3 linked regions of the Homo sapiens genome follow. The protein of the gene in region 1 purifies or fractionates together with the protein of each later gene. This does not show direct contact. Each region holds a gene or a part of one and is shown on either strand. Other genes may lie near its edges.

Region 1 (4,338 bases):
TGCACCTCTGCTCTCTAATCTCTTCCCAAACTTGATCCTTCCCCTCACTGGACCTTGGCATTGGATACACCAGCCTCCTCTGCCCCCAGCAGGTCCAACTTCAGCCTCTTTGTCTTGCCTACCCCTCCATCTCACCTCCTGCTGGGTGCTCTCAGTGCTGCTGCACTCCTCCTTGAGATTTTCCTCATCTGAGCGCTCCATACTCTCCCATAGGCGTTGGGTGGCAACGCCAGGCTCCTCGCTGCTCCGCCCAGAGGCCCCTGCAAGGCCTCGTGAGGGCCTCCGGCCTGCCAGTGCCAATGCTGCGGTGGCCTCCCCAATGCTGGGAAGCTCCCCAGCCTCAGGTCCCCCATCAGCCCGGCTGTATTCGGCACACAGGTTCAGGATGGTCTCCAGGCGCTGGCGTTCCTGGGGAGGATGGACAGAGCAGGACATGAAGGGGAGGAAGCTGAGCCCTGGTGGGGATAGAGCCAGGTTCAGTATCCTGTCAGGAGGGAGAGCAGGGTTACAGGGGGCTAGGACATCAGTGTCAAGTCAGGAGAGGCCTGACCCCAAGACCTAGGGGAGGCAGAGGGAAACAAGGTGCCCCAGAAGTGGGCAGGAAGAACGAGGCTGTTGTGCCACATGCCCACATGGCATAACAGCCTGGTTCTTCCTGCCCACTTCTGGGACAGCCCCTTCCATCTTCCTGTTCCTTTCTTTTTTCAGTCTACCCCAGGACACACAGGAACACACCAAATGGACCCACAGTAACACACTAAACACATACAGAAACACACTGTTAAGCAGACTACAGACCACAATGAGACACAGATAAACTCAGTTGCTCGTCCTGACGCAGGTACACACAGATCTACAGACACAAGGACACATACTGACACACCAGCACTGATGCACAGGCACACAAGGATACAACATGTGCCCTGGCCCTGCATTAATAGGCAAGTACAGAGACACCAGCCCTGACATGCACAAATGCACACTGATGCACACTCACAGATAAACACAGTCTAGCATACAGACAGGTGGGCATGTATGCAGACAGACAGTGCTGGAAAACAGACCCATGAGCCCACAGGGACCAGACACCCAACCACAGACATACATGGAGAAGAGGTAGACCAAGGACACGGCCCTCTTTGTCCCCACCTCAGCTCCAAGTTACCCTCAGGCAGCCCTTGGCTGTTTATCAGCAGGATGGGCTGCTGCCAGTCCTTGAATGCCCAGGCCCATGAGTGAGTACTCCCATGGCCCTACCACTTCATCCACCCCTCTCCACATACACACCCACCCAGATACAGTCACCTCTCAGGGGCCTAGGAGGTAAAGGAGGGATGACACAATCACATTCCTGGTCTTTGTTGCCTTTTCCCGCAGGCCTACCTATAGGCCTGAAGCCTGGTTTGTGAGGCTTCCATGGCTCTCTAGGGTCCCTAGACCTCCTCAAGTGTCTCTCATCACTTACAGTTTGGCCATGAACCCAAACCGCAGGAAGTGGAGAGAAGGCTGGAGAGGTGTTCTCATACACTTACCCAGCTTCCCTCCTGTTGCTTGCCCAGTTCCATGGCAAAAAAAAAAAAAAAAAACCGGAACAGAGCCTCGGCACCTGGGAGGCTGGGCCAGTGCCTCCACCCCTGCCCCAGGACCCAGATAAGCAGCCTGGTTGAGGTGGGAGGGGCAGGGCGGGCAGCCTCCAAGACTTAAAGTGGCAGGTGAGGCAGGTCAGGACTAGTGGTAAGATGTGTGCTTATGTGTGGGAATGGGGGTGGGAAAACTGATGGAGGAGTTGGGGGAGGCTGTGCCTGCCACTCTGCCTGTGCCAGGCTCACTGCCCCCTCTCCAGGATGAGACCCCAGCTTAGAATGGCCATGCATTCCCGTCTAGACCAATGCAAAAACAGTGAAGAGAAGATGCAGCAAAGGAAAAGATGGGATCCGCCTCATCTCACCCCCATCCAACACAAACACACAATCCTATACCCTCATCCAAAACTGTCCCAACCTCTTCCAAAAGCATCTCCAGATGCTTCAGTTCTGGTTCTCATCAGTTCTGGTTCTCTTCCTCAAACCAATCCCAGGGTTCCTGCCCACCTTCCAAAGAACCCTGTTCTGCTCGTAAGGGACAGAGGGCAGAATCCATTCTTCTGTACATGGGCTCGACTGTGTACACACCAGCCAGAGCCCCTTAAGCTCCCTGAGCTATCTGGGGAATCCTGGCCCCCACCCAGCTCAGATGCCATCTCCAGGACAGCTGCCTAGAGCCACACCCAGCCCCTGCATGCACCCACGTGCATGCACATGGACACACACAGTCACAATTACACAGGCTGGCTAACGGTCAGGCCAGGGTTGCCTATCCTGCTCTGTCCCTCTACCCTGCCACCTGCACTCCTAGATGATACTGCCTGGGCCAGGATGAGCAGCTCCCACCCACTTGTAGAGGCCAAAGACAAGCAAAAAAGAAGGACAAGGTACTTTTCTAAAGAACAAGTCTCAGAAAGAGTCAGACAGGGGACCTGGGTTCCAATTCTAGCTCTGCCAGAACTTGCTGTGTGACCTTGGACAAAGCCATTCCCCTCTCTGAGCTTCAGCCTACTCATGATCACCAACTGCTTCTCAAACTGGGAGGTTCGAGGTCTTACCATACCTGTGGTATGTTTTCCTAGAGCTTCACTGTGCTCAGGTAAACAATGTGAAATTTAATTTAACATTAAAACAAATGCTATGTTGAATAAATGCAAAATTAGCAAGAATTTAAAATAAAGTCTTAGAGATTTCAAAGGAATTTCTTCTTCACGGCACCAGAACCATAAGATATTGATCACTAAAGTGTATCCTGGAGGTGGGGAACCTTGAGAAGCCGAAGCCCTGTTTGAGGGCCTCTCCTGCTCTGCCAGCTGGCCTGCTCGAGCCCTGGCAGAGACTCTGCCATGGACAGTGGCAAGCCTCCCTGGCACCCGCTCACCAGCCTCTCCATCTCCTGCTCCCGGAGCCGCTCTTGGCGCTGTCGCCGGTGGTACTCCAGGAGGTCGTCCTCATTGTCACTGATCTCTGTGATGCTATTTTTCCGCTCCCTTGTGACAGGCACCCGCAAGTCCCCGCTGGAGAGCTTCCTCTGGACACAGGGACTCTGGCAGGGTGAAGCCCCAGTAAGAGAGCCCAGACTGTAGGCTGGGCTCAGCCTGCCACTGAAGCTGCCCTTGTGGGGTGCCAGAGACTCACCCAGTGTGGGTGAGGGGCTCCGTGTCCTACGGCCCCGTGCCCCCAGCGTCAGGGAGAAGTCCTCTGGTGAAGCCCCATGGGCTGCCCAGCGCCGGGGCCGAGGACTCTCTGCCACTTCCCTGTTTAGCTTGGGATCTGGGGTGGTCCGGGTGGGCAGCGGGGAGAGAGCTCGCCGGGACAGAGATGGACTTAAGGGGGGTAGTTCTCGCATACTGTCCAGGCCCCGCCGGCCCAGGCGGGGACTCTCAGGAGGCTGCAGGGTACGGGTGGCTAACCCATCTGAAAATGTTCGGCCCACCAGTTGGCGTGAGGGGCTGGTTGTTAGCACCCGCTCACTGCCTGGAGGCTCACGGAAAGGGCTGGGAGGGCGGTCCTGGAGTGTGCCAATCTTGTTTCGGGGAGCAGGGACTGGAGGCTGAAACTTGGGGCTGCCAGGAATGCTGGTGGGTTGACTGAGAGCACCAGAAGCTGGGTATTCACTCAGGCTGATGGCCACCACAGGCAGCTGCCCACCCAGCCGGGGGCTCTCAGTGGCTCTCCGGGCCTCCGCCAAGACAGTAGCTGCAGGGCTGTCTGTCAGCAGACCCCGGAGGCCAGGGCTGGGAGGCCTCTCATGGCCCCCTTTCCTGCTCAGCCGAGGACTCTCGGAGCGAGCACCACTTGGGCGGGACTGTGGGGGCTGTAGGGCCAGATGGTAGCTGGAGGAACGGGCAGGTACCAGCGGGGGCACAGAAGGTCCTGGCTCTTGCCCACTGGGTGAGTGACTGGCACAGCTTCCACTGCTGGCTGGTGAAGAGAGTGGAGAGAAGGCTGGAGAGGTGTTCTCATAGCTGGAGCCCACAGACATGGCGCCGGGGCTGGTTGGGGGAGACAGCAGGTAGCGCCCACCATTAGCCATCGGTGACAGTGGAGAGGTTGCGGCAGGCTTCTTGCCAGCAGCTCCAGGCTCCTCTAGCACCAGTGAGTCCATGATCTCTTGCAGGTCCTTCTCAATAGAGCTCACCAGGGAACTGTGGCTGGCACAGGCAGAGGGTCCCCGTGTTGCAGTCTGTGGGGTGTGGTTCCCATTTACCAGACTTTCTGATTCTGCTGGAGGGAAATGCAAAGGTCTTTGACT
Region 2 (3,919 bases), on another chromosome or scaffold:
GGTTGGGGCAGAGAGCCAGCCCACAGTGCAGAACAGAATGCTGAAACACAACAAAAGTAGGAAGATGTCTTTGGCTAAAACTTTGGCATTAAATAAAAGAGGCAAACAGGATGGAAACATGCAGCCCTGCCAGCCAGGATGGGGCAGAGCAGGGGCACAGGCAATCTTGAAAGCTGACTCCAACAGGGGTGAGAACCAGGCCTGGGCATGTACCTGGATGGTAGAAAGCTGTGTTTCAACCAGTTTGGTGTGCCCAGGCAGGGAGCGCGTGCAAGAAAGGAACAGGGAAGGGCAGGTGGGCCACCCTGGCCACAGCCAGCTCATCAAGTAACTAAAGTGGATGTAGTGCAAATGTCGCAACCAAGTACTATGGACACGCTACCTGCTTGCCTTAAGGGTCATGTGGCAATGTGGAGCCAAAGGCAGGACCTTGTCCTTATCCTGGGTGCCTGTGTCCTCAGTCACAGAAAGAGCCCCAAGTCTTCCCAATGTGCATGGGACAAGGGTTGACCTCTCCTGCCTCCTTGTTAGTTGAGAGCTCCTGGGTCCAGGAATCAAGGCTCAAACTTTGTGCTTCTCTTTGCAGTCTGTGTCCCCTGCTGGCACCAGCAGGCCAAAGATGGACAGAAGAATATCTGGGCCACTCAGCCCATGGCAGAGCACCCAGCCTGAGCCCAACCTCAGAACATCACAACAGCCCTTCAGCACTGGCCAGGTGTCCAAGAAAACCCACAGGGTGGTACAGAGGCCCACTGAGCAGGATGTGATGCACAGTTCCACGGGACAGAGGGGCATGGGTGGTGGTGTCCCTAGGGGAGTTCCGCTGTTCTCAGGTGGCTACCAGGCCTGGGGGGGCCATACAGGGTCACCGAGGCAATGTGGTTGTTCTGCATGACCTGGTGTGAGAAGAGGACAGTGGGTCAAGGGGGAGAGGTAAAGGGATGTAGGCAGATCCTGTGCATGAGGGCTGGAGGTTGTGTGACATACCTGCACCTAATGGCTGGGTTTCCCGACTCCTCAACCTCCCCTGGTTCATGCTAAAGGCCCCCCTCTGCCTGAGATCTGCCTGTTTCTCAATGGTTACACACAGCCTTTACCATGGCCACGTGTCCAGTCCTTCTGGAACTGTTAAGTGTCTGCTGGAGATACTGCATCCACAGGGAAAACAAGGGCAGCTTGCTGTTCTCCCAAGTCAGCAGGGCCTCCAGAGCCACTCACTCCCCTACAATGCATTTGTTCACATGCCACTGGAGGGCCCCCAACACCCTCTGCTGGGCCCCACTTGCCCTGTGGTTCCCTTCCCTGCTATAATCATGTTGTCAGATAGAAACTTGGGATCCGTTACCTCCCATCTTGTTGGACACAGACCACTGCTTCGGCCTCTGTGACCCCAGATTTCTCAACATCATTTCTGAACCTTCATTGTTAAGTGTGGGGAGGCCAGGTATGCAGCAGACACGGTTGCTGAAGAAGGATGAATCTGCCCACTATGGCAGTGATGCCCTCCCCAATTTCCCTCCATCATTCACCTGGCCCTGCCATGACCAGCAACCCCCCAGGCAGTTTATTTCTAGGGCTTCCACAGCTTACCTCAAAGATCATTCGCTGAAGACCAAAGCAGAATGTGGAACCAAATGGGTTGGTGTTGTTTGGGGAGGAAGACCTGAGGCCAAAGAATTCAGAATTAGAGAGGCAGACAGAGGCCACGGCCTTAAAGCAAGGGATCCAGTCTTTTCTGGGGTATGGGATACTGGCCAGTAGTCTCTCATGGCTGTGAGTGTCTGTCTGTTTCCCACACAGGCCTGCAAGATCCTAGGGGTAGGGATGGTCTCACTCAACTCAGAATTATACATACAGAGCCCAACAGGACAAAAAAGTTACTGTGGAACTGGACTAGGGTGGCGAGGAGTCAAGAGGGCCCTCTTGAGTGAGAGAATCTCAGGCAGCATGGCAACCAGGAACGGGGCTGTGGACTTCAGCAGGCAGCAGCTCAAAGCTCAAAGGGAAAAAGAGCCCAGGCCAGCCAGCCAAGCCCTCCTTCCTTATTGAATAACTGAGGGTGAGAAGGCCCCCATACCTAGAGGTAGGCTTGGGAGAGGGGAGCTACCCCTGGGGACATTCTCTCTATCAAAGATGAACACACAGAACAGTTGACTCAGTCCTAATGTGCAGAGTGGGGCAGGAAGTATGCTTGTGGCAATATCAGAAACTTCTGTAATTTTTAAGCAACATCCACTGTGCCAGGCTTCCCTGGGCTTTCTGGGCTCTGAGGAGTCAGGTGGGGTGGCCGGGGACATCAAACTCCCACTCACCTGTGCAGGACAACAGGCTTCTCCACAGGGTGGCCCAGGAGCTCCTGGATGTTGTCCCACTGCAAGAGGGATAGAGGGGAGCAGGGGTTAGTAGGGACATGAACATGTCTGTGACCAATGGCTGGCCTAGAGGACACAGCCCCATACTGCCTGCAGGCTCATGTCCACCTCATTCTCAGGCTATGCCAGGTAGGAAGATAGGTGCTCACCTTGCTGTAGGTCGTGCATGTTTCTGTCTGACCATCTGCGTTTTCTGAAAAGAGAAGACAGTGGGGCAGATTTGTAGCTGGCCCAGCCTACCTGTGGCCCCAGCCCTAGGTAGGAACCAGACCTGGTGTCCCTTTGCACTGGGGTTGGAGTACATGGGGAGGATTAACAGGCTGTTTTGGAGTTCCAGGGTGGAAGAGGATGGAGGGGTGAAGGGAGGTCAGTCAGGTGTGAGCAACAACAATTGGCAGTGGGTGGCAGGCAACAAGGATGGGCTGGGGCCCCCTGGATGATCATCTGTAGATAAGAAACTCTCCCCTCCAGAGGCCGGCAATCCCACAGTCATAGGAAGAGGCCTCAAGGGCCTCTAGGAGACTCAGACCAAGAACACTGCAGCCCCCAGAACAATGAGCCCACCCCAGAGGAACTGAGGCCATGGGCAGAAGCTCCACACATCCAACCACTGCTTCGATCTTTCTCCCTTTTCATAGTGGAAAACAGACTCTAAAACCCCTCCCTTACCCTGAGAGCTTTCACTACTCACCTTTCTTTATGGCTAGTGGGATCTTGAACTCACAGCGATGATAACTAGAGAGAAGGCAAATGGGTAAAGGCTGGGCCTCCTAGAAGGCCTGGCCACTCCCATATTCCAACCCCACACCCCAGGAGAAACAGAACCAAACACACCTGCCCAAAGCCCTGGCTCTGAGTGCCTGACAGTGTTCACTGGGGGAGGCCAGATTTAGGCACGGAAGTCGAACAGAAAAGATCTTGGCCCTGGGTTCTGGAGAGCCTATTACCTTGGATAAGACATCAAGCTTTCTGAACTTATTTCCCTATTTGTAAAATGGGTTCAAACAGAGAGATGTAAGGCATTGGACCCTGTGCCAGGAACACAGCAAGCACTCAGGAAATTCACTTCCCATGAAACAGCAAGAATTCAGGTGTAGATAAATTAGTGAACACCCAAAGCCAAAAGCTCTTTCCTGGGGTTTTCAGCCCAAAACTCACTTCACAGAGGGGAGGTACAGACAGGTGTACTCACATGTTGAAATTATAATGCCCAGGGTAATTGGTGTGTAGAACAAACTTCTTCACTTTGTGTGTATTCGCATCAAAGAGGATGTCCTGGGATAGAAAACAAGGGTACTCAAGGAGGGAATGTTACTGAGGCAGGGCAGAGGCCTTTCCAAAGGCATGTCCAACTTGGGACATCCAGTGCACTCCACAGCAAGAATGCCTGCAGGCATCACCTTTCTTCCAGACAACAGTCCAGGGGACAGGCCAAGCAGCTTTTAGACATTTTCTTTCTTCTTTTTTGAGATGGAGTCTCACTCTGTCATGGAGGCTGGAGTGCAGTGGCACTGTGTCAGCTCACTGTAACCTCTGTCTCCTGGGTT
Region 3 (3,919 bases), on another chromosome or scaffold:
TGCAATATAAACATTCACACATTTGCCCAAGTACCAGGATGTTCATTGCAGTAATGTTTAAAACACGGAAAAATTGGAAACAACCCAAGTGTTCAGCATCAGGGGAAAAGCCCTCCACTTTATTTTCTTCATAGCACTATTACTACTATCTGAAATTATATTAATTTATCTACTTGTTTATTATCTAGGAAATCAGCTCATCTAGGAAAAGGAAAGCAAAGAGACTGTATTTATATAATACTTGTTTGGCTAAAATTCTTAGAAATAATACCTTTTCTTCTAAAACAACAAATCAGAACAGACACCATTCCAGATTTTAATAACATGAACCCACCAGAGGGCCCACATAAAGGCCTGTAGGTTTGCAGACAAAGGCTGAGAAACACTGCCCCTGATGAAGTGTCTAAACTTGCTATCTAGATAGACTGTCACTAGATGTGGCCTGTTTGCCCTTTTAAGGCCTGGGGCATTTCTCAGTAGAATCAACACACTCTTCATTACACAGAACCCTCAATTGCCTTTAATACTTGGATCTCAATACTGCTGCCAGCACCCAGTGAGCCTCCACTCATTGAGGGCCCACCATGGGAAAGGGGTCTCAACCTTCTACTAGAAGAATACCAAGACTGCCAAGATGTATCATGTTGAGAGAAGACAAAATGCTAACAGCTGGGCCACAGTGCTTGATGGAAGACTTGGCATTGGTAGGAGCACATCAGTACTCACAACAGCAGTATTCTGGGGCCCAATCCCCAAGGCTGTAAAATAGGAAATATGCCTACGATCTACAAAATGGAAGGGATAAGTGGCCCTTGCTAGGATTCCTAAGCCCTTAATGACATTTCCATTCACAACCACTAATCTCTGCTTTTTATTTCTAATCTCACAGAGAAGCAGTTTTCAAGCTGCTTTTTCAACTGGAGGAACTCTGTTCAAATGAAAGTGTAAGATGAATAAACAAACAAGAGGAAGGGGATAGCCTTAGTGCTCAGTCTAGGGGGTTGGGGTGGGAGGATACCCCTCCCTTTTACCCCAAAGTGCTGAGAAGCAGAGTTTGAAAGGGAAGGGAGACAGAGAACGAGGGAGGAAGCTTTACTAGGAGAAACAAAGGTCCTGTGGAAGGAACATACCTGGCTTGTTGGAAGAAGAAAAAAGTCCCCTTTTTGACTGGGACAAAGCAAGCACAGGGAAGAGCAGTAACAGATGAGGTCAGAAAGACAAAGAGGAGTTCAGATTATGTAGGGGCCTTGTAGGAAAGTGTAAAGCCTCTGAGTGGATAACTTACTTTTAACAAGATTCCTCCGGCTGCTGAGTTGGGAATAGGCCGTCAGAGAAGGACATAAGCAAGGAAAAGACGTTACTGCAGTTATTTCCTTCCTAACTTGGAGATATACATTTGGTAGTCAGCATGTAGTTGTTGGTGTATAGATGGTATTTAAAGTCATGAGACTGACTGAAATGCCAAGGAAATAAGAGTCAATAAGGAAGAATGGAGTATTAATGAGCCATGTAATGCTCCAACTTTTAGGCGTCAGGAAGATCATGAGGAACTAGCAAAAAGACTAAACCTCCAATAAGGTGAGAGGGAAATGCAGAGAATGCAGCAAAGCTAAATGAAGGACGCGTTTCAAAGAAAGAGGAATAATCAACTGTGTAAAATGCTGCTGAAAGGTCAAGTAAGAGGAAGACTGAGAACTGATTCACTAGAGCTAGCAACATGAAGGTCAGTGGTGAGCTTGACAAGAGTGCTTCAGTGGGGGAAGGGGCCTGATTAATGTGGACTCAAGAGAGACTGGTGGAAAAGGAACTGGAGTCAGTGAGTTAGATAACTGTAGAAAACAAATTGAGAGGGGAATGCAAAGTCAAGAGAGTTTGGTCTTATATTAAAAGGCACTATATCTCCGGTATCTAGAACAGTGCCTGGCACATAGTGATAAATTAGTAAGTATTTGTTGACTGAACTAAGTGAGATCACTAGCCATTTAAACAGTCTTAGTTCTGGAAGTTTAAAAGCTGATAGAGTGAAACATGAGGATTCTTGGTCCAATAAGAAGAAACTGCCTTTTAATTTCCTACTATGCCTGAAAACTCTTTAGGGCCTTTAAACACCTAGAATAGACATTCCTCAATATGAGGAATAGCAACAGAATTCAACAAACACATGCCCTACAAGAAAATATACTTTCAATTCTGGATAGCTGCAATCTCTCCAACTACCTCTTGCATCTGGGGCCCTGTGACTTTGGACCTAGGGATACAACATGGATCACAGTCCTTTAGTTACGTCGTGATTCACTATGCACTAAGAGGGAAGATGTGTGGTGGTCCCTGAAGGACATCAATCTATGCGGCCTTGACCAAATGAAAGCTCTATGTGGCATGCCAATAATAATCATGAGTATTTGTTTAATGATATATACTTTTCAAAGTGGTAATACATATATCCTCTCCTATTTAATCTTACAACAACTTTGTGAGGCAAGTGTTTTTATCACTTTCATTTTACAAATAAGAGTCTCAGACTTGCATAAATCACACAGCTCTTTCAACAAATTATGCTGGGATAACTGGATATTCACATGCAAAAGAATGAAGTTGAATCCTTACCTCACATACAATAATTAACTCAAAATCCACCAAATAGCTAAATGTTAAGAACTAAAACTATATATTGCCAGAAGAAAACACAGGAGTAAACTGGCAGGACCTTGGATTTGGTGATAGATTGTCAGATATAATGCCAAAAGCATACACAATCAAAGAAAAAACAAATTCAACTTCACACGAATTAAAAACTTCTGTGCAAAGAACACTAACAAGAAAGTGAAAAAACAGCACACAGTAAGACAGGAAATATTTGCAAATCATAAACCTGATTTGTATCCATATTTACATATGTAAAGAACTCTTAAACTCAACAACCAAAAGACAATCCAATTAAAAAATTGATAAAAGACTTGAACAGACATTTCTCCAAAGATACACAAATGGCCAACACATGAAAAGATGCTCAACGTCAGTAGTCATTAGGGAAATACAAATAAAAATCACAATGAGGCACCACTTCACACCCACTAGGATGGCTATAACCAGAAAACAAAAGTGCTGGCGAGGAGGTGGAGAAACTAGAATTCTCAAAAATTGCTGGAAAAAATGTAAAAGTGTGCAGCATCTGTGGAAAACAGTCTGGGAGTTCCTCAAAAACTTTTTAAACATAGAATTATTTCATAATCCAGCAATTCTATTCCTAGATACATGCACAAAAGAATTGAAAACAGGTATTTAAACAAAAACTTGTAGAAGAATGCTCTTAGCAATACTATTTATAAGAGCCAAAAGGTGTAAACAATCTAAATGTCAACTGATAAACAAAACGTAGTATATCCATACAATGGAGTATTATTCAGCCAAAGAAAGAATGAAGTACTGATACATGCTACAACCTGAGTGAACCTCGTATACATTGTGCTGAATGAAAGAAGCCAGGCACAAAAGGTTACATATTGTATGATTCCATTTATATGAAATCTTCAGAACAGGCAAATCCATATAGACAGAAAGCAAATTGGCGGGTGCCAGACGGTAGGGGTAAAGGGGAATGGCGAGTGACTGCTTAATGGGTACAGGGTTTCCTTTTGGGGTGATGAAAATGTTCCAGAATTAGCGGTGATGGCTGCACAACATTGTGAATGTACATACTGAAGTAACTGATTTGTACACTTTAAAATGGTTAATTTTACCTCAATTAAAAAAAATCACACAGTTCACCCTTGACAAATCCAGGAACTATACTCAGGAACTGACTCCAAGTCCTCTCCCCACTCAGCTATCCTGTTTCCTCCACAAACCAAAGGAGCTCTGGACCACCTTGGTAATGGACTTTTGCCTCTATATACTGCCAGCCAGGCATAGTACCTAA

Evidence for each region. Proteins that work in one complex are often made in the same cells at the same time.
Region 2: the proteins of PHLDB1 (region 1) and PHAF1 purify together in Homo sapiens (co-immunoprecipitation; one large-scale study listed by IntAct). This does not show direct contact.
Region 3: the proteins of PHLDB1 (region 1) and PPP2R3A purify together in Homo sapiens (co-immunoprecipitation; one large-scale study listed by IntAct). This does not show direct contact.

The regions. Positions count from the first base shown.
Region 1 is NC_000011.10:118,627,277-118,631,614, reverse strand, and holds part of PHLDB1 (pleckstrin homology-like domain family B member 1), read right to left. Parts: intron 4,311-4,338; coding exon 2,965-4,310; intron 1,568-2,964; exon of another isoform or gene 1,566-1,567; coding exon of another isoform or gene 1,533-1,565; intron 409-1,532; coding exon 136-408; intron 1-135.
Region 2 is NC_000016.10:67,144,022-67,147,940, reverse strand, and holds part of PHAF1 (phagosome assembly factor 1), read right to left. Parts: intron 3,648-3,919; coding exon 3,565-3,647; intron 3,108-3,564; coding exon 3,064-3,107; intron 2,566-3,063; coding exon 2,522-2,565; intron 2,372-2,521; coding exon 2,313-2,371; intron 1,664-2,312; coding exon 1,591-1,663; intron 897-1,590; coding exon 810-896; 3' UTR 1-809. UniProt on the Homo sapiens protein: Plays a regulatory role in autophagic activity. In complex with BCAS3, associates with the autophagosome formation site during both non-selective and selective autophagy.
Region 3 is NC_000003.12:135,971,809-135,975,727, reverse strand, and holds part of PPP2R3A (serine/threonine-protein phosphatase 2A regulatory subunit B'' subunit alpha), read right to left. Parts: intron 1-3,919. UniProt on the Homo sapiens protein: The B regulatory subunit might modulate substrate selectivity and catalytic activity, and might also direct the localization of the catalytic enzyme to a particular subcellular compartment.